4 linked regions of the Homo sapiens genome follow. The protein of the gene in region 3 purifies or fractionates together with the protein of the main gene of each other region. This does not show direct contact. Each region holds a gene or a part of one and is shown on either strand. Other genes may lie near its edges.

The links. Proteins that work in one complex are often made in the same cells at the same time.
Region 1: the proteins of TEAD2 (region 3) and TRPS1 purify together in Homo sapiens (affinity purification with mass spectrometry; one large-scale study listed by BioGRID and IntAct). This does not show direct contact.
Region 2: the proteins of TEAD2 (region 3) and DCUN1D5 purify together in Homo sapiens (affinity purification with mass spectrometry; one large-scale study listed by BioGRID and IntAct). This does not show direct contact.
Region 4: the proteins of TEAD2 (region 3) and CHD1L purify together in Homo sapiens (affinity purification with mass spectrometry; one large-scale study listed by BioGRID and IntAct). This does not show direct contact.

What each region holds. Positions count from the first base shown.
Region 1 is NC_000008.11:115,662,063-115,666,858, reverse strand, and holds part of TRPS1 (zinc finger transcription factor Trps1), read left to right. Parts: intron 1-4,796. UniProt on the Homo sapiens protein: Transcriptional repressor. Binds specifically to GATA sequences and represses expression of GATA-regulated genes at selected sites and stages in vertebrate development. Regulates chondrocyte proliferation and differentiation.
Region 2 is NC_000011.10:103,064,248-103,069,043, reverse strand, and holds part of DCUN1D5 (DCN1-like protein 5), read left to right. Parts: intron 1-2,476; coding exon 2,477-2,585; intron 2,586-2,670; coding exon 2,671-2,775; intron 2,776-4,666; coding exon 4,667-4,769; intron 4,770-4,796. UniProt on the Homo sapiens protein: Contributes to the neddylation of all cullins by transferring NEDD8 from N-terminally acetylated NEDD8-conjugating E2s enzyme to different cullin C-terminal domain-RBX complexes which is necessary for the activation of cullin-RING E3 ubiquitin ligases (CRLs).
Region 3 is NC_000019.10:49,351,527-49,356,322, reverse strand, and holds part of TEAD2 (transcriptional enhancer factor TEF-4), read left to right. Parts: intron 1-352; coding exon 353-364; intron 365-903; coding exon 904-1,011; coding exon of another isoform or gene 1,012-1,020; intron 1,021-1,116; coding exon 1,117-1,175; intron 1,176-4,796. UniProt on the Homo sapiens protein: Transcription factor which plays a key role in the Hippo signaling pathway, a pathway involved in organ size control and tumor suppression by restricting proliferation and promoting apoptosis.
Region 4 is NC_000001.11:147,279,801-147,284,596, forward strand, and holds part of CHD1L (chromodomain-helicase-DNA-binding protein 1-like), read left to right. Parts: intron 1-225; coding exon 226-391; intron 392-4,550; coding exon 4,551-4,699; intron 4,700-4,796. UniProt on the Homo sapiens protein: ATP-dependent chromatin remodeler that mediates chromatin-remodeling following DNA damage.

The DNA.
Region 1 (4,796 bases), on a different chromosome or scaffold from region 3:
GAGAGATAATAAGTACAAAAGAAAAATACAGATAGGGCCTGAGACAAAATTACAAAGAAATGATAACTCTGGGCCTGGTTGTTGGCTAAAACTTGATTGTTCAAAGCAAAAATAAAATAGGAACCTTCCAACAATTCTTCAAAGTCCTCCAGCTCTGAAGCTAAAACCTATGGATCTTGCTGGCATCATGTTACTTTCCTGCTGGTTTTAGAAAAAGTTGATCATTTAGAAAAGGCTGCCAGAGTTAAAAATGCAAGGGACAGCAGAGGAAAGTCATGCGGGCAGCCAGTTCTTGACGTGGACAAAATGAGAATGAAAGTTTCTGAACTCACTGTTGTGAAGTTTTACATGCCGCTCATTTGCTTAGAAGGCTCTCTCAGATATTCCACCAGTTAACGTATAAAAGCAAACAGGATCTAAAATCGTGTGGGCTTTTTTTTTTTTCTTTCCCCAAGTATGCCAGGGTTGTGAATAAATACAGGGTTTGTATGGGAAGATGAAGCGTTTCCTGTAAGTTCTGATGCTGACAGGACAGTCTGGAAATGATACCAACATTTTGAGGATTTTTTTTTTTTACCTTTAAGTGAAAGTTTATTAATGATATGCTTAATCTTAACAAGTCAAACATATTCTTAGAGTTTCTCTCTCCTTGGATTTCATAACTTCCTTTTAAAGCTACACCTTTGGATAAAAACATCTCTAGATTCAGTTCAATATACAGGGCTAGTAACATGCTAAAGTTTGACGATTATTTCTGGATGTTAATAATGTGAAAATAAAACTCCTGAGGGGCAAATAGAGCCTTAATACCAACATTATAACTTGATTTCTCTGAATGTGAGGCCTTCTGAAGCTTCATTAGTACTCTGTTGGCGAAGTATTATTTACCACTGGCGAGCTGATGTTTATGGCTTCCTGATATGTATGTTATATGTTAGGATATATATGTGTAGACTGCTTTTCCATACATAATACCTAAGTCTAACACTTTTCAAATAAGTGGTGGAAAGTAGCAAGTTACTAACACAAAGTTTGTCACTCCTTTGAATTCTAGATGCTGTAAGGGTCTGTGCTACTATTTAGGTTTTGTCCTTTGTCTCTTAAAGGTAACGTTAAAGGTAAGGAGAAAAATGTCATAATAGCTGTGAAGTCTGAGCTGAATTTAGAACTTAGCATTTCGATGACTAATATTTTAAATGATTTTATAAAATTTTCTGCATACGTGTTTGAAAACCAGTTTAGGATCGGAATCAGTGTGCTAATCCGAAATAAGTTACACATACTACTACCATATTTTCAGTATTATTTAAGTCACCTACCACTCCTGAGTTTATTCTGATTTACATCATATAGATCTCTTCCTATAAGGAAATATTCATTCATAAGGAAGACCTTTAAAACAGGGAAATGCATGCATCTGTAGAAAAGCAGCTTTTACGATTCTAGTATTTCAGTGACGGTTCTATTATCACTACTATTATTAGATGTATATGTGTATGTGTGTACAGACATACAACCCACAATATGTGATTAATGATGTGTACATTTTTATTAAGAAAGCAACCAAAGACTGTAGATTTTTATAAACGCTTGTCTTACCTTCTTTGTTGTAAATAAACATTACTGAAAGTTTCCAGAGGACTTGCAGCAAATTGTTTTTGAACTAGAACTTTATTCCAAATTTGAAATTGGAATAAATGCTGATAACTGACCTTTAAACATTTTTCATAACATGAATATTTTAGAATAATTATATTTTAACTTCAGTTCTTCTTTTGATAGCAACAATAATGTAACAACACTATGCTATTACGTGTACAACAACACAGACTTTAAGAAAGTTATGGGCAGGTGTCTATAATTGATTTAAAGGAAAGATTATTTTTGTAATAAGTGATGAACTTAAAATGACTGGCTTACATTAAAACATATTCTTATTAAGATTTCTCTGGTGTGTAAAATGAAGCCATTCATTCAACAGGCTGACAACTTTCCACTTGGTATTTGCCTTTCCTTAATTTAGTTTCCGCAGGACAGCTAGTGTGGTAGTCTGCATCTGTTTTTAGCAGGCATAGAAAACTATAAACTCAGACAGTTCTGTCCCAAATATTGCAGCTCACAAGTTACAATCAATTTGATAAAAACCCGCAAGTTTTATGGGCTCGTATTTTGTTGTTCATCCTTGCTAGGTCAAGCTTTCAGGTAATAGGTTTCTTTTTCTCCCTCTTTTGCTGATGATAACTGCTAATACCATTGATAACTAATTCTGAGTCTTGTTTACTCATTTATCATCCTTATTTACCATTTGTTGAAGTTTTGGGAAATTAATGACAGCATACGTAGACTTGCGTTTACTTTGATGGCTTATCTGTGAAAATGACATTTATCTTTTGTTATTATACAGAAATAAGTAAATTCTTTGTTACCATAATAGTTATGATTTATGGAATTTTTGAGTCCCCCTTAGATATAGCATAAAGATGGTCTTCTAGCCTTTGCCAAGTAGACATTTAATCTAATTGTTTAAGAGTGCTTGTCATGTATAGAAAAGACTAACATACTTTGCAATTATTTACATTAAAAATTATGTAGAGGTTTGTTTTAGTGTAATTTTAAAAATAATTTGTCTCCCAAAAGCTGTAACCAGTGGATTAAAGTAAATAAGCTAAAATACCAAATCTTGTTTTATACCATTGTTCTATAGCAAACAGTGCTGCAGAGGATGTAACTACTTTTTAAAATTTATCCTCCGATGTAAGTAGGGCCAAAGTCATTTGTTTGTATAAAATATTCTATTAATTATATATGACCTTTATAAATAATATCTTCGATTTTATTATTATGATCACTTTTTGAGCTATCACAGTGCTCAGTTGTTCTCCTATTCCTGAGAACTGAATTTGGCCTTTAGTTTGGTTTTCTGATGGACACAATAATGTAGAACTTGACTTTGGTTAGAAAGAGATCTTTGAGCTTCAGGAATCTCTGAAGGTGCAGTAGGATCTACAGGTGAAAACCATTTGAATTGTTAAGCATTAGTTAGGTGAAGAAACTCTACTGGTCCCTGCAGCATATAGCAGCTATTATCGTAGCGGTCTACTTTTTGCTATCCCAGTTTTTTTTTTTTTTTTTTTTTTCCTTTTCCAAGAGCACAAATCCAAATAGCAAAAATGAAGGTGAAATTATCTATGTACTTCAAATTTGGAGCATCATTTGAAATCATTTTCTGATTCTAAGCTATAACTGAAATACAAATATAACATTAAGACACCCCAAAGAAGACATTAAGGATACACTTGTCGTTCTTAAGTGTGTTTCACTAAAAATAATAACAAAAAACTTTTAATTTTTAAAATGTTTCTAGCTTTTAAAAACCTGCAGTAAATACTTTACAAGTGGCTAGACACCTTCCCTGGTGGTTTAGTTTATACAAGCAGGAAACTTTCTCTCCTACTCTTTCTCTCTCTCTTTCTTGTTTTCTTTAAACCAACTGACGTAATGCCAAACTTTGCTTTAAAAGAACAGACAGAAGTAATTGGTAGCTTTTAACTTTTAATAATGTTCTGGATTGGTTTTAGTGGCCAAAATGCCATTTAAAAAAAAAAAAAAGTTCAAGTAAGAACGGGCTTGTGGCCTGAGGAAGAAAGGCTCTGTTGATGCAGTTATTTTTATTCTTGTTTTTCAATCTGTTATTAAAAATCTTTCCTGCTGAGCACTGCTGGATTTCTCCAATTGCTCTTTGTGATGGCTGGTGCATTTCAGGTTACCGTAACTTAAACAGTTTTTGGGTTTTGGGGAAAGTGGGTATTTGCGTTGCATTATTTCTTTCTTATTTGGAAAAAAAATCCATTTGTTTTTGTTTCAATGGAGATTAATTAATTAAGGTTATCAATGGCCACAGGTCAAAGAATATGTTTATATAACGAATGCGACACCTGTTAGCAAGAGCCTAAAATGTGGAAGTTTAAATGTGACATTAATCATTTTTATGTGCAGAGGAAGGAAAATAGATGAAACTTTACGAAAATGCATTTTTAGATTGAAAACATTAATTTTAAGGGTCAGTGCGTTTCTACAGGCAGCTCTTTTTTTCTTACAATTTTAGATGATAATTTTTTAACCCTATTTATCAAACAGTATTTATAGTTTCCTTTTTTTTTTTTTTTTATAAATAGTCATTTCTTTCTCTCTGACTTTGCACAGGCAAACAGAACTTTCTCCAGTTAAGAGACATCTTGGTGATGTTGATTGACATCAGGGCAACTTCAGAAGCTGGCAAGTAGGAAAATCTTTTTAGGGGGCAAAAAGATTTGTGCTAGTGTTCTCTTCCTTGGGAAAAGACACTCCACCCAGAAATTATTGGGTTTAGTGGAAGGCCCTCCGCCCCATTCGGTGGCTCAGAACTAAGTACTGTTTCGACTTTTCTTTTGTGAATTGTTCCTGAGGTTTAAATCTTACGGTTACTTGTCGTGGACTTTGCTTTTAACCCAAATTCTTCCTGATAGATTTTTTTTTTCCTTCTTTACCTAGAGCACATTTAAGGAATAATATATATAGTGAAAATTAAGTGTCACACAAGGAAGAGTACAGTCTTTAAGGCATTTATGACTATAAAAAGCATTCCGCAAATTTGGGGCATTGAAGTGTTCTCTGCTTATAAATTTGACAGTTTTGATTTACTTGATATGTTTCTCAGTTTTTCTTGCGAGAGTTACAGACTCTAGTTCAAATCGTAGGCATTCCTTTTTTGCTTATGGCTTCTTTAGTTAAAGATTTGTTTGGAAAAACTTTAGGAA
Region 2 (4,796 bases), on a different chromosome or scaffold from region 3:
CTTTAGAATCAAACTCTTTGAAAGCATTCGTCTATACTTATTTTCTCCAGTTCCACTCTTTTCATTCTCTCTTAAACCTGTGCCAGTAAAATTTCTATCCCTGTCACTCCTTCAAAACAGTTCTTGTCAAGGTGTCATATACAAGTAAATACTGAAAGCAAAAATATGCATGTATTTTTGAACTGTAAGATCTTTTTTTTTTTTTAATTTTTAGGTTTGGGGGTACATGTGAAGCTTTGTTACATAGGTAAAGTAGTGTCAGAGGGGTTGATTGTGCAGATTATTTCATTACCCAGGTATTAAGCCTAGTACTCAACAGTTATCTTTTATGCCCCTCTCTCTTCTCCCACCCTCCACCTTCAAGTAGACCCCAGTGTCTGTTGTTTCCTTCTTTGTGTTCATAAGTTCACATCATTTAGCTCCCACGTATAAGTGAGTACATGTGATATTTGGTTTTCCAGCATTAGCTTGCTAAGGATAATGACCTCTAGCACCATCCATGTTCCCGCAAAATGTATGATCGTGTTCTTTTTTTATGGCTGCTTAGTATTCCATAGTGTACATATACCATGGTGTATATGTATTTTCTTTGTCCAGTCCATCACTGGTGGGCATTTAGGTTGATTCCATGTCTTTGCTATTGTGAATAGTGCTGCAATGAACATTCACCTGCATATCTTTATGGTAGGATGATTTATATTCCTCTGGGTATATATCCAATAATGGGATTGCTGGATCGAATGATAGTTCTACAAACAATACTTATCAAAACTTGTGGTTGCAGCTAAAGTTGTATTAAGAGGGAAATTATAGCCTTAAATACTATATTAAATTAATTAAATTCTGGTAAGATTGGTCAAGAAAAACAACAAAAAAGGGATGAAGATAATGCTAATGCAAATTAGAAAATGTTATAAATTTTAATCATATTTAAATAAACTTATATGTAAAATAATCAGTTATGAGAAAAGTATGGGACCAAAACATTCAAAAAGAAATAGAAAATCTGAATGGCCCTATGGCCATTAAAAATGTTGGTTTATTAGTTAAAAGTTTTCCTTCCCTCAATACTCACCTGAGTTTGGACAGATGCTAATTCCAGGGTTACATAAGCTTTTTCAAAAAACGGGGGGGAAAAGTAGCAATTCTCTTTTCATTTTCTGAGTCTTATGTACTACAATCTTGTTAAAAAAACTAGCAAGGAGAGTAAGAATGAAACTTAAAAGCTAGTCTCACTTAGGAACCTAGCAAAACAACCCCAAAATCCAGCAATGTATAAAACAGATAACATGACCAAATTTGACTTATTCTAGAAATGCAAGGTTTAATTAATATTAGAAAATTGTCCAAAATATTTACACATTAATGAAATTATGTTACTACACATTATAGGCCTTTGCATTATTGATTTAGTATAGTCTTAGTTAAATCTGAGAATGCCAGGTGGCTGGAGAGCATGTTGAATAACTAAAATTCAGTTTTGAGTGGAATACTGTGGACCACAGTAGATGGCACAATTAATTTGATTAAAGGGAGTCAGATGGTCTCTCAGAGGTGGCAAAATGTGAGTTAGGTCTTGATGAATAATATTTTTATCAGCATGTTTGAGATTTCAAGTGGAAATAATGGGTGCTGAAGTATGGCAGTGGCATTTGGGAATGGTAAGTGATATAATTAGAGCATGGTAAGGTTATCAGGAAGTGGCAGGAGATGAAACTAGAGATTTGTGCCAAATTGTGAAAGGCCTTGACTGCCTTGCTTCTTGCTAAACAGTGGAATTTATCAACCCACTGAGACAAAGTCAGTTAAGATTTTTGAGCCTTCCATATATTTAGCTGCTTATATTTAATGTCTTGTCTTTAAAAATAACACGTATGACTTGTTGTTTGCATGCTTTTGCATATATAACTTATTTGAAGTTAGGTGCTTCTACTGATTGACTTTGACTTTTTGTTCACAAAAATATAGGGATCTTGATTTATGACTGGACCACTTAATGTATTAATTTGCACTGTGTTATATCCTAAACTTTTAAAACTACTCATGACTAATGTCTTTCACCAAACTGTTACCTACGAACTTTCTAAAGAAATGTGTGACAAAGGCGTGATTAGTTTCATTTGCTCTGCCATTTTTAGCTGTATATGTGATAAAACATGTTTTAATACATCTCTTTTTAACTTCGATTTTATTTGGAATTTTTGAATGAGCTGTTTGTTTGTTTTTAAGCAAAGTAATTGGAGTGAACTTTCTTTGATTCCCAGGTTTTCTTTTTTCCCCTTTTTTCTTTTTTTATTGCATTGGTAGATGCAGGGCAAGAAATTTATTACTCTAAATTTGTGACTCAGAATTTTAAAACTAAATTAACTTCATAAATGCGCTCACTTTTTTCTTAATGCATTACGTCTAACCCCCAGTGATACTTTTATTTGATTTTCTTGATTATGTAATTTGTTTGATATTTCTTTTATTTAAGGTGTGACTGCACAGAAAAGTTACAAAACAAATTTGACTTTTTGCGCTCACAGTTGAATGATATTTCGTCATTTAAGAATATCTACAGATATGCCTTTGATTTTGCAAGGGTAGGTGCAATTTTCTTGTTTTGTTGTTTTAATAGCTTTTCATCTTGAGACCACACTTAGGAAAACTTTTTCACTTATATTTTAGGATAAAGATCAGAGAAGCCTTGATATTGATACTGCTAAATCTATGTTAGCTCTTCTGCTTGGGAGGACATGGCCACTGTTTTCAGTATTTTACCAGTACCTGGAGGTACGTATGTTTTTTCGAATTTTGAAAATATTATTTTAAAACTTAATCTGAAAGTTATACTTTTGAGGAACAAGTAGATTTTTAATAGTATGCTTTAAAAAAACTTTAGAGAAAAAATTCTAAAATATGTACATATCAGTTGCTATTTTTAGATAGAAGTTCATGTTTATTAATATATTTTGTACCTAAGATATTTTCAATCCTACCCCCCCAGTCCCCCAAATAAAAGAAACCTCCAAGAAATACATTGTATCACAGACATTTGTCTTGCAGAATTAGTTTCTCGGGGTTTTCATAAGAGAGTTAATGCTAGTACACAAACCTTTAAGCTTCTAAATCTGATTTTCTTCTTTTGTTACACAGGGTCTTAAGCTGAAATGTACATAAGAGAACCAATTTAGTAATAAAACTTTCCTTTTCTACTTAGGCTCAATCTAAAGAAACAGAATAAAGCTATTAATATTTTATGGCCACAAATATGAGAATGGCTATAATAGTATACTTAAATATGCTGGTTACTAAAAAAATGTAAGCTGAAATGATGACGTGTTCTTTTAGAAGGTTTATCATAGCAACTACTATAGGCAGTGATTCTAAGAAGATGCTATTCTTTTTTTCCATTGCTTTGTCTAGTTTTTTTTTTTTAAATCTGTTTTTGTGCCTTTGTAATTCTAGGGTTATTGGTATAGTTCTCACCATATCTTGAATACAGATGCTTTTTCCTTTGGAAATAATTTCTCATAAAGCACATTGCTTATAGCTGCTTCCCTTTTCCCAGAGTAGTAAAAGTTGTGATACAAGACAGTGATATCAGCTGGGCGTGGTGGCACACGCCTGTAATCCCAGCACGTTGGGAGGCCAAGGCAGGCAGATCACTTGAGGCCAGGAGTTCGAGACCAGCCTGGCCAACATGGTGAATCCCCGTCTCTACTAAAAATACACACAAAAAATTAGCTGGGTGTGGTGGTTTGTGCCTGTAGTCCCAGCTACTCGGGAGGCTGAGGCACGAGAATTGCTTGAACCAGGGAGGTGGAGGTTGCAGTAAGCTGAGATTGCACCACTACACTCCAGCCTGGGTGACAGAACGAGACTCTGTCTCAGAAAAAAAAAAAAAGAGACAATGATATGAAAAGGTCTTACATGAATGAGTTTTACGCATGATTCAATCTGTAAGTCCTATAAATTATTTTTGATGGATGGTATCTATTTTCTTCCTATTAGTAGTTTTGGGCAAAAATAAATTTAACTGAATGTAAAAATATTCAGCTCTATGGGGAGCTGAGAAGAACTAAATATTTTCAGACACTTGTTATGTGCAGGTTGTTTGGCATATATTTTTAAAAATCTTTATAATACCATTTTGAATTAAATTCTATCCCCATTTAACAAATGAGGAGGTGGTTTCTATTCTTAAGTAACTTTCCCAAAATCACTCAATTAAGTGGCAAGGGTGGGATTTAAATCGAAGCCTATACTCTTTCACTTGTTTCCAAAGATGCCAAACTCAAAATGTGGCTAAACAGTAAATCTTGAGCAAAGAAATGATTTACTAGGAAGCAGCACAATAGAACATACTGGATGTAGGAAATGTTATATATCTTGATCTCATTGGTGGTAACACAAGTATATACATATGAAAAAGTTAGTTTTATCCTTACTGTTAGTACTCAGTGCTCTTATTATTCCTCAAAAATGAAAAAAAAAGTAAAAAATAGATTATGTTAATATGTAAATGCCCATGAGGAATCTCTTAGAAACACAAATAATTAAAAAAATAGTAAATGTTTTAGAAAAAACCAAATCACAAAAACAGTTAAAACTTAGTTTACTAAATTGAGTAAATGATGTTTGTTTAAATATTTAAATACAAATATTTAAATCATTTTTGCAGCAATCAAAGTATCGTGTTATGAACAAAGATCAATGGTACAATGTATTAGAATTCAGCAGAACAGTCCATGCTGATCTTAGTAACTATGATGAAGATGGTGCTTGTAAGTATAACATAACATGTTCCTTTG
Region 3 (4,796 bases):
CTGTTCTCGACCTTCTGTGTTCCCTGTCTGTTCTGTCTGGATTAGGAAACATTTACCTTGTCTTCCCGCTGGCTCTGAAATTCTCATTTCCTGTCTCCTGGACATCTGGGAACCTTCTGGGTTTCCTTGTTCTAGAAACCCCCATCACTGTCTTTCTGGGCAGGGAGCCCCTTTTCCCCTCCAGGGCTGGCCACCTCCACTTCCTGTTGCGCATCCATCCCTTGGCACTGCTCAGCTCAGGGTGGCGGGGCTGTGCGGGCGGGTAGGGCAGGGAGGTGGGGGAGTCCGGGCCGTACTTCCTAAGTCATGTTTTCTTTCCTCCTTTGGCACCCTCCCCCACCCCCACGGGCAGGCTCTGAACGTGGTAAGTTCCTCTGCCCATCCTCCCACCCACGCTCACTCCAAACTAGTGCCCTGTCCCTGAGGAGGGGCAGAGGGCTGTGGGGAGAGGTTCAACCCTCCCCCAACCCAAGCCTTTGCCTTTTTTTTTCTTTTTGGAGACAGGGTCTTGCTCTGTCGCCTAAGCTGGATGCAGGGGCACGATCTCCACTCACTGCAACCTCTGCCTCCTGGGTTCCAGTGATTGTTGTGCCCTAGCTTCCCTAGTAGCTGGGATTATGCGTGTGCACCACCACACCTGGCTAGTTTTTGTATTTTTAGTAGAGACAGGGTTTCACCATATTGGCCAGGCTGATACTGAACTCCTGACCTCAAGTGATCTGCCCGCCTCCGGCTCCCAGAGTGCTGGGATTACAGGCGTGAGCCACCATGCCCGGCCACTAACCCTTTGCCTTGACTCCCCACCTCTGCACCTCCCCGTCTTCACCCCACCCTGGCACCATCCCCCTCTTGCCATGTTGACTGAGATGCCCCTCTCACATGAACTTCCGCCTCCTCCTCCAGGACCAGGTTTCCAAGGACAAGGCTTTCCAGACAATGGCAACCATGTCCTCTGCCCAGCTCATCTCCGCGCCTTCTCTGCAGGCCAAACTGGGTCCCACTGGTCCTCAGGTGGTCCAGGTTGGGGATTGTGGGACGTGGGGGCAAAGGGGGATGGATGGGGCTGCAGCTGTCCACAGGGGACTGACCAACCATTTTTCTTTGTGTCCTATCCAGGCCTCTGAGCTTTTCCAGTTTTGGTCTGGAGGATCTGGGCCCCCCTGGAATGTTCCAGAGTGAGTACTATGTGTCCTGGCTCAGCACCTGCCCCCCACCCTCACACTCCCACAGAGACCTTTCTCACTCCACCTTCTAGCTCCTGTGTCCCCCCATTTATGTATGTATGTATGTATGTATGTATGCATGTATGTATGTATTTATTGACATGGAGTCTTGCTCCGTTGCCCAGGCTGGATGGAGTACAGTGGTGCGATCTCGGCTCACTGCAACCTCCGCTTCCTGAGTTCAAGCAGTTCTCCTGCCTCAGCCTCCCGAGTAGCTGGGACTATAGGCGCCTGCCTCTATGCACGGCTAATTTTTGTATTTTTAGTAGAGATGGGTTTTCACCACGTTGGCCAGGCTGGTCTTGAACTCCTGACCTCGTGATCCACCCGCCTCAGCCTCCCCAAATGCTAGGATTACAGGCGTGAGCCACCGTGCCCAGCCTCTATTAGGTGGTTCTTGGACCTGAGGGTAGAACAGAGGTTATAATTAATCTTCTCTTAGGTTCAGAAGGAAGAAAATGTTTCCCAGAGGTAAGTGGGAGTGTCCTTTTCAGTTCTGAGAGAGCCTTGAGGTGACGGGATATGTTTGTAGCCTACAAGAATAGAAATGGGCCCCAGAAGATGATGGGAAGTGCTTTTTTTTTTTTTTCTTTTTTTATACAGGATATTCTTCTGTTGCCTAAGCTGGGGTGCGGTGGCACAATCATGGCTCACTGCAGCCTCAGCCTCCTGGGTTCAAGCAATCTTCTTGCCTCAGCCTCCTGAGTAGCTGAGACTACAGGCATGTGCCACCACACCTGGCTAATTTTTTGATTTTTGTAGAGACGGGGGTCTTGCTATGTTGCCCAGGTTGGTCTTGAACTCCTGGGCTCAAGTGATCCCCCTGCCTGGACCTCCCAAAGTGCTGGGATTACAGGCGTGAGCCACCGTGGCGGGCTAGGGGTGTATTTCTCAGCCCAGAGAGGAACTGATGGATCCAGGCTAGGCATTGGTTGGGTAGTGTGGCTGCAGGACGGTGAGGCAGGAGTGTTGACGGTATTGTCAGAGAAAGAGTGTAGTGAGGGCCGAGTGTGGTGGCTCACGCCTGTAATCCCAGCACTTTGGGAGGCTGAGGCGGGTGGATCACGAGGTCAGGAGATCGAGACCATTCTGGCCAACATGGTGAAACCCCGTCTCTACTAAAAACACCAAAAAAAAAAAAACAAAAAACAATTAGCTGGGCGTGGTGGCAGGCACCTGTAGTCCCAGCTACTCAGGAGGGTGAGGCAGGAGAATCACTTGAACCCAGGAGGCAGAGGTTGCATTGAGCCAAGATTGTGCCACTGTACTCCAGCCTGGGCAATAGAGCGAGACTCCAGCTCAAAAAAAAAAAAAAGAGTGCAGTGACAGGCTGTGTGGGATCTAGACTGGAAGAGAAGGAAGGTCACTGGGGAGCTGCTGCTGAATGGGGATACGGGAAGCATCAGATCAAGTACCTGGGGGCTGAGGGTTTTGCAGGGGGGTTGCTTAGCTGGAAGGTAGGGGGCTGGGCAGGCACTGCCCTGACGCTGGGGTTTCCGCTTTCATGGAGCTGTTAGTCAAATGGGGGAAATGAGCGTTCATCAAATCATCACCTGCATAAACAGAAAATCGAAGAATGTGTGAGGTGCTGTGAAGAACCACAGCAGGTTCTGGGGTGGAGGAGAAAGTTCTAGGGGTTTCTCTGAGAAGATAACATTGAAGGCCGGGTAGGACTTAGCCAGGTGAAGAATGGGAGTGGGAGGCCCGGCATGGTGGCCCGCATCTGTAATCCCAGCACTTTGGGAGGCCAAGGAGGGCAGATCACTTGAGGTCAGGAGTTCGAGACCAGCCTGTCCAGCATAGTAAAACCCCATCTCTACCTAAAATGCAAAAAATAGCCAGGCATGGTGATGTGCGCCTGTAATCCCAGCTACTCCGGAGCCTGAGGCAGGAGAATCGCTTGAACCTGGGAAGCAGAGGTTGCAGGGAGCTGAGATTGTGCCACTGCACTCCAGCCTGGGCAACAGAGCGAGACTCTATCTCAAAGGAAAAAAAAAAAGAATGGGAGTGGGAATATATTAGGCAGACACAATAGCACACGACAAAGTCCTCAGGTAGGAGATCTTTCTGGGTTCCAGGAATCTAGAGGAGGCCAGTCCAGTATTTGTTGAGTGCCTACTAAGTGCCTGATACTGTGCTTGGTTTGGGGGCACAGCAGTAAGACAGGTGAAATTCCTGCCTTCACGGAGCTTCATATATTTGGTGGGCGGGGGAGGAGACAGACAATAAACATATAAACAAAGAATTAATAAGAAAAGGAGGCCAGGCATAGTGGCTCATGCCTGTAATCCCAGCACTTTGGGAGACCGAGGTGGGTGGATCATTTGAGGTCAGGAGTTCGAGACCAGCCTGACCAACACAGTGAAACCCCGTCTCTACTAAAAAAATACAAAATTAGCTGGGTGTGGTGGCACAGCCTGTAATAATCCTAGCTACTTGGAAGGCTGAGGCAGGAGAATCGCTTGAATGCAGGAGGCGGAGGTTGCGGTGAGCCAAGATCACGCCATTGCAGTCCGGCCTGGGCAACAAGAGCAAAACTCTGTCTCAAAAAAAAATAGAGCTGGGGTCTTGCTGTGTTGCCCAGGCTGGTCTCAAACTCCTGGGCTCAAGCGATCTTCCTGCCTTGGCCTCCCAAAGTGGTGGGAATACAGGCGTGAGCGACTGCGCCTGGTCTGACCTCTGACATCTAAGTCTCTTCACCACTATCTCTTGGGCTACTAGGGCTGTGACTGATACTGTAGCCACTAGCCTCATGCAGCTATTTAAATTAAAATTAAATAAAATTAAAGATTCTGTTTCTCAGGTCCATGAGCCACACTTGTGCTCAGTGGCCACGTGGTCTGTGGTCAGTAGCCACATGTGGGCACTGGGTACCGTATTGGATGGCACAGATTTCCATCCAATAGAACATTTCCATCCCTGGAAAGTTCTATTGGCCAGTGCTGCCTCCCCACCCCGACTTTGGCCTCCTGTCCCATCTCCTGAGTGTTGGTCATTTTCTTCCCACCCTCCCAACCCCTCAGCCTCTTCTTCCTCCAAATTCCTTGTCTTCTGCGTCTTCTCCCTGCCTTCCAAGACTTGGTTTCTCTTCTCTCCTCTTTCTTTTTATTTTTTTTTTGAAATGGAGTCTTGCTCTGTCACCCAGGAGTATAATGGCGTAATCTCGGCTCACTGCAACATCTGCCTCCCGGGTTCAAGCAGTTCTCCTGGCCCAGCCCCCTGAATAGCTCGGATTACAGGCGCGCACCACCACACTCTGCTAATTTTTGTATTTTTAGTAGAGATGGGATTTCACCATGTTGGCCAGGCTGGTCTCGAACTCCTGACCTCAAGTGATCTGCCCGCCTCAACCTCCTGAAGTGCTGGGATTACAGGTGTGAGCCACCACGCCAGGCTGGTTTCTCTTCTCTTTCTGACATTTTGTGAGAGATACCAAAATGTCATCATCAAGAGCCTGAGATACCGGGCTGAGACTGACCTGGGTTCAAGTCCCAGCTCTGCTGCATCTCAACTGTGTGACTTTGGGCAGGTCAGTTGACCCCTCTATACCTCAGTTGTCCTCATTTGTGCAAT
Region 4 (4,796 bases), on a different chromosome or scaffold from region 3:
TCAAAGTCAATACCTCTGATAATCATTTATCACCTCTCTGCTTACCCATCATCCAACTATTAAATGGCCCTGGCTGTTACTATCTATGATGGGGAGAGCAGAAAGGCTGCCTGTTCATTAGAGAAGGACTGTGCCTGGTGTCGTTAATCCACTTAGCCAATCACTGATATCCTAATGTTTCTTTTCATGAGAATTTGCTGGACTTTTTTGTTTCCTCTATTCAAGTTGAGTGAGATACTCAAATTTGGTTTGGATAAACTGCTGGCCTCTGAGGGGAGCACCATGGATGAAATAGACCTGGAGTCCATCCTGGGAGAAACAAAAGATGGCCAGTGGGTCTCTGATGCCTTGCCTGCAGCAGAAGGAGGGAGCAGAGATCAAGAGGAAGGAAGTAAGTTGGAGGTTAGAGCAGAGCAAATGGCACAACCACCCCAAGCTAGAGCTCACGTCCCCATGGAAAGTTTTGGATGCTGCTCTCTGGGGCATCTTTTTTCTCCCTTACCCTATTGTCATTTGGGCACACTGTTTAAGACTTGCTTGATAAAAGAACGTTACCCAAACTAACTGGAAATTTGTGTGGCTCTTCCCTTGTAGCTGAACTGTGAACCAAAATCATAGTATTAATGTTTATGATAGTATCAATCTTAAGGCTTTGAATTTGTACCTTTTCTCCCTTGGTTGCAAACATCTTCTTCTTTATTAGTAAAGCCTACCATCCTTGGTATGATGCTTTGCACATAGCGATTCCTCTTCTAAACAGTAGAATTACTTGTTTTTAAAATTGCAGCTAACATTAAGCATTTATTTTGCGTTCATCAACAGTGCGGACTTTGTCATGTGCTTTTTCCATTTAATTTCTGTAATCCATGAGATGTAGGAGATGGTTTTGTCTTTCTCTTAATTTTCTTTCCTGAATTTGGTCAGCATTTGTCATTTTGTTCTTTTCTATTCTGAGCACTTAAATTTCCGATTTGAAGTAATTTTTCACATGGTAGCTTTGTAAAGGTATTCCCTGGCATCTTGTAGTTATTTTGAAATGACTTATTTTTCTGTACCAGCTGCAGCAGAGATTCAATATGGACTGGGGTGAGAGGTTTGGGAGTCTTACTAGGCTTCTTAATTCACCAGTACTTTCTTTTAATTATACACAATAGTGCTGTTTCTTCACTAGATGGTAGCTCCTTTTTATTTTGGGTAGTGGTAGTGGCATGATTTCTGGTTTTGTAGTTCTCTTTTGTTTCTATAGGACCGTGAATTTCCATCGCTCGCTTTCTCTCTGTGCCACAAACTTGTCAAAGGATGTCTTCCCACTTCTAAGTTGTCTCTCTCCCTGCCAGAAGCAATGCCTTCCCTAATTCCTGGCTGCATGTATTTTCATACCTTCCCTTCTGTTCAGTTCCTTAGTAGCCACTGCTCTGATCCACTCAGACCTATCCTCATTATTTTCCCACTTGGAATGGGACTGTCTTTTGTGGGTAACTTTTATCTGTCTGACCTTTCTGGAACCCTCCTGCCCTCTCCACTGCATAGTCTCTGCCTGACTGTCTACTCTAGTGTGGGCTTTGGAGCTGGTTTTGGGGGTTCATTTCTCTTAACTTCCATAAGTTGAAGTGTGTAATATTTTCTGACTCCTAATGTAGTAGGCATGGATTGGGGTGGTTTTGTTGTCCTTGTTGATCTGTATAGTTTTTGTGGGATAGGTGGAAAAGTTGGAATTTGGGCAGCTGGCATTGTTTTACAGGAAACTGCTTTTTGATTTTATGTTTTATCTTCGAAATTCTTTATAAAAATATCTTGTTTGTATTCTTCAAGAACTCTTTCTTGTTCTCTGCTTATTGTTTTAATTGTAACTCTGTTCTCATTTCAAGGACATACTGTCTTCTCTGGGGACATTTATTATGGCTTCTTAATATGTATTCCAGGGAGAATATTACATCTTTTTAAAAAGTATTTCTCTTCCCATTGCATTGACTTTTACTTCTACTTCTTTAAAAAAATATATATATATTTATTTATTTATTGAAATTGGCAGATAAAATTGTATTTATCATGTACAACATGATTTCTTGAAGCACATGTACATTGTGGAATCATTAAATCTAGCTAATGAACATACATCACTTCATATGGTTATATATTTGTGGTGAGAACACTTAACGTCCACTCTCCTAGTATTTCTCAGGAATACAATATGTCATCATTAGCTATAGTCACCATGGTACCTCTTTTTCTAAAAAGGAAAATTCGTTTGGGGATCTCTTGTTCTCATCGATAGTTTCCCCAACCGTCTGGTATTCCCTGGCTGTCTGATCACATGTGCTGATGAAGTGCCACAAAGCTGAGGGCAGCTCTGGCATGGGCCCTGGGGACTTATTCCTGGTTGGTGAGTCAGCTTTTACATGGAGGGCACCTTCTCTGATCCATATTTGATGTCTTTTCACTGGGCAACCCATTTTCTCCAGAGACCAATCTTCTAGTATTTTCCCTGGGAGAGGTGAGAATGGAGTTCACCTGGTTGCTGAAACTGAAAAGGCGGGGTGAGTCAAGGGCTCATGGCACTCCTGCTCTTTGGGGTGCAGATCTTCTCTCAATTCCCCGCTTTGCAGTACTCTGTACTTGTAAGTCCTAAGCTCTTGGGGGATTGAGAGGGTCTCTAGACTCCTAATGAGCCCTTGGCTAGGCACCTGTGTTTTGTTTCCATGTCTCTTCTTAATCTGTCATTATCCCTCCAGCAACTTTGCATTTTCCAAAAGGTTCTTGAACTTTTTCATCCACCATTGCCTCATAGATCTTTTTTAAAATTCCTTTAACTGTCACTTTGTGGTTTCAAGTGAGAGAAGAAATAGATGCATGTGATCATATTTTTAAGTTATAATTGATTATATTAAGTAGCAACACACTCAGTTCTGTACTGATCTAGATAATTTCAGCTTATTTTCCTAACGTTTACTAGAACAAAATAAAGTCACACTCTTTTCCAGAAAGATAATTATATTTCTCAGTCAATCCAACTGCCTAAAATAATTTTACTTTATTTAGACAGTCCAACTGCCAGAAAAAATCCCCAGTTGTATTACACTTTGGAATTTTCTCTTCGATGAATGGATATAGGTCCGCTCTGTGGTAAATGATTCTCCTGGTAGGATAGAGACGCGGGTCTAGGCTTGTGATGGCAGAGTGAAGATAGGAAGTATGATTACAAAGAATATAAGTGGATAGGAAAGACTAGTAACTAACGTGGCCCCAATCAGAATTAAATAAAAAACAGGGTTGCTTTATCTTAAATGCCAACATTTTTTTAAAAAGCATGGTTGGAAGTTGAGAATTGCATGCAGTATGAAGCTACATATGTTGATCATATTTGACACTTCTCAGCTCTATTTTTTTCTACTTGTTGATAGAGTGCCTCATTGAAAGCCCCCTGCTGATTTAATTAGCAAATGCCAATTAGAATTACAGCTGGTTAGATTTGGGTACAAGTGTGAAGCAATTGATCTCTTGAGAATGAAAATGTTTTGCTTTCATACTCTCTAGGGAAAACATACTTATAATGGATTTCACAAATATTGTGAAAATATATTATTTGGTAACATGTGCTACTAAATATGCTTCCCGATTCAATCATTATCTTACCTATCTGTGGTTGCTAGTCTTGGCTGGTCCTGACTTTTCTTAATCACTTGATTCATGATCTTGGCAGATCACTCAACCTCATTGAGCCTTTTTGTTCTCATCTGTAAAATGGTCCTATTAATGCCTACTTTACTCTTTTACACAGTTGGAAAAATCAGACACGATTATAGTTGTGAAAGTGATCTGACAGCATGAAGTGCTATTCAAGATGACACTATTGTCTTCATTGTTATTATTACCACAGTTATTATTTGCTAGCCTGTTAATCTCTCCACCCTTCTAGAGACCCAATTATATACTGAAAAGAGCACACTGGCCTTAGAATCAGAAAATCCTGCCTCTTCCAGTGAGAATTACAGAGTCCCTTAATTTCTGCCTAAGCCTCAGTTTTCCCTTTCAAAAGTAGGATTAGTTATACCAGGATTGTGGTGAGGATCATGACGAAGACGCTTGATGAGATCTGTAAAGAATATTGTAAATCCAAGGGATTATTTTTGTGATTCTTCATTTTCTCATAGATTTGCCAAGCTGAATATTAAAAGTGTGTTTGGAATAAAAAAGTACGGATTTTATTAGATGATCTTAATGTCAGTGAGATTTGCGCTGAGGGATAGTTGGGAATAAATGAATGAGGAATGAATGGAAGAATCCAGCAGAGATTCACAAACCATCTAGGGATGAACCAAAGGGTTTTAAGCCATGCTCTCCCCTTGGAAAAGTAAACACATGGGATCCCCATGTAGAACCCACATTCTTCAGTGTCAGTGGGATGGGAAATGAAATACCTTCCTTCATATGGACTTAGCCCATTTAGAATATAGGCTGTTCTCCTGTCCACTTTTGTTATTGATTTGAATAGCATTAATCTATTTTTCCTTGGTATCTAACATTTCTCTCTTTGTGTTTTATGTTGTTAGAAAATCATATGTACTTATTTGAAGGTAAAGATTATTCTAAAGAGCCCAGTAAGGAAGACAGAAAATCATTTGAACAACTGGTAAACCTTCAGAAAACCCTTTTGGAGAAAGCTAGTCAAGAGGGCCGATCACTCCGAAATAAAGGCAGTGTAAGAACTGTTAATTTATTTAAAAGTTGTTCTTCCAAACTCTCATTCTAAAACAAACAAAAAAATGATGCTGGCATCGTTTTGTTCTCTTAGGATG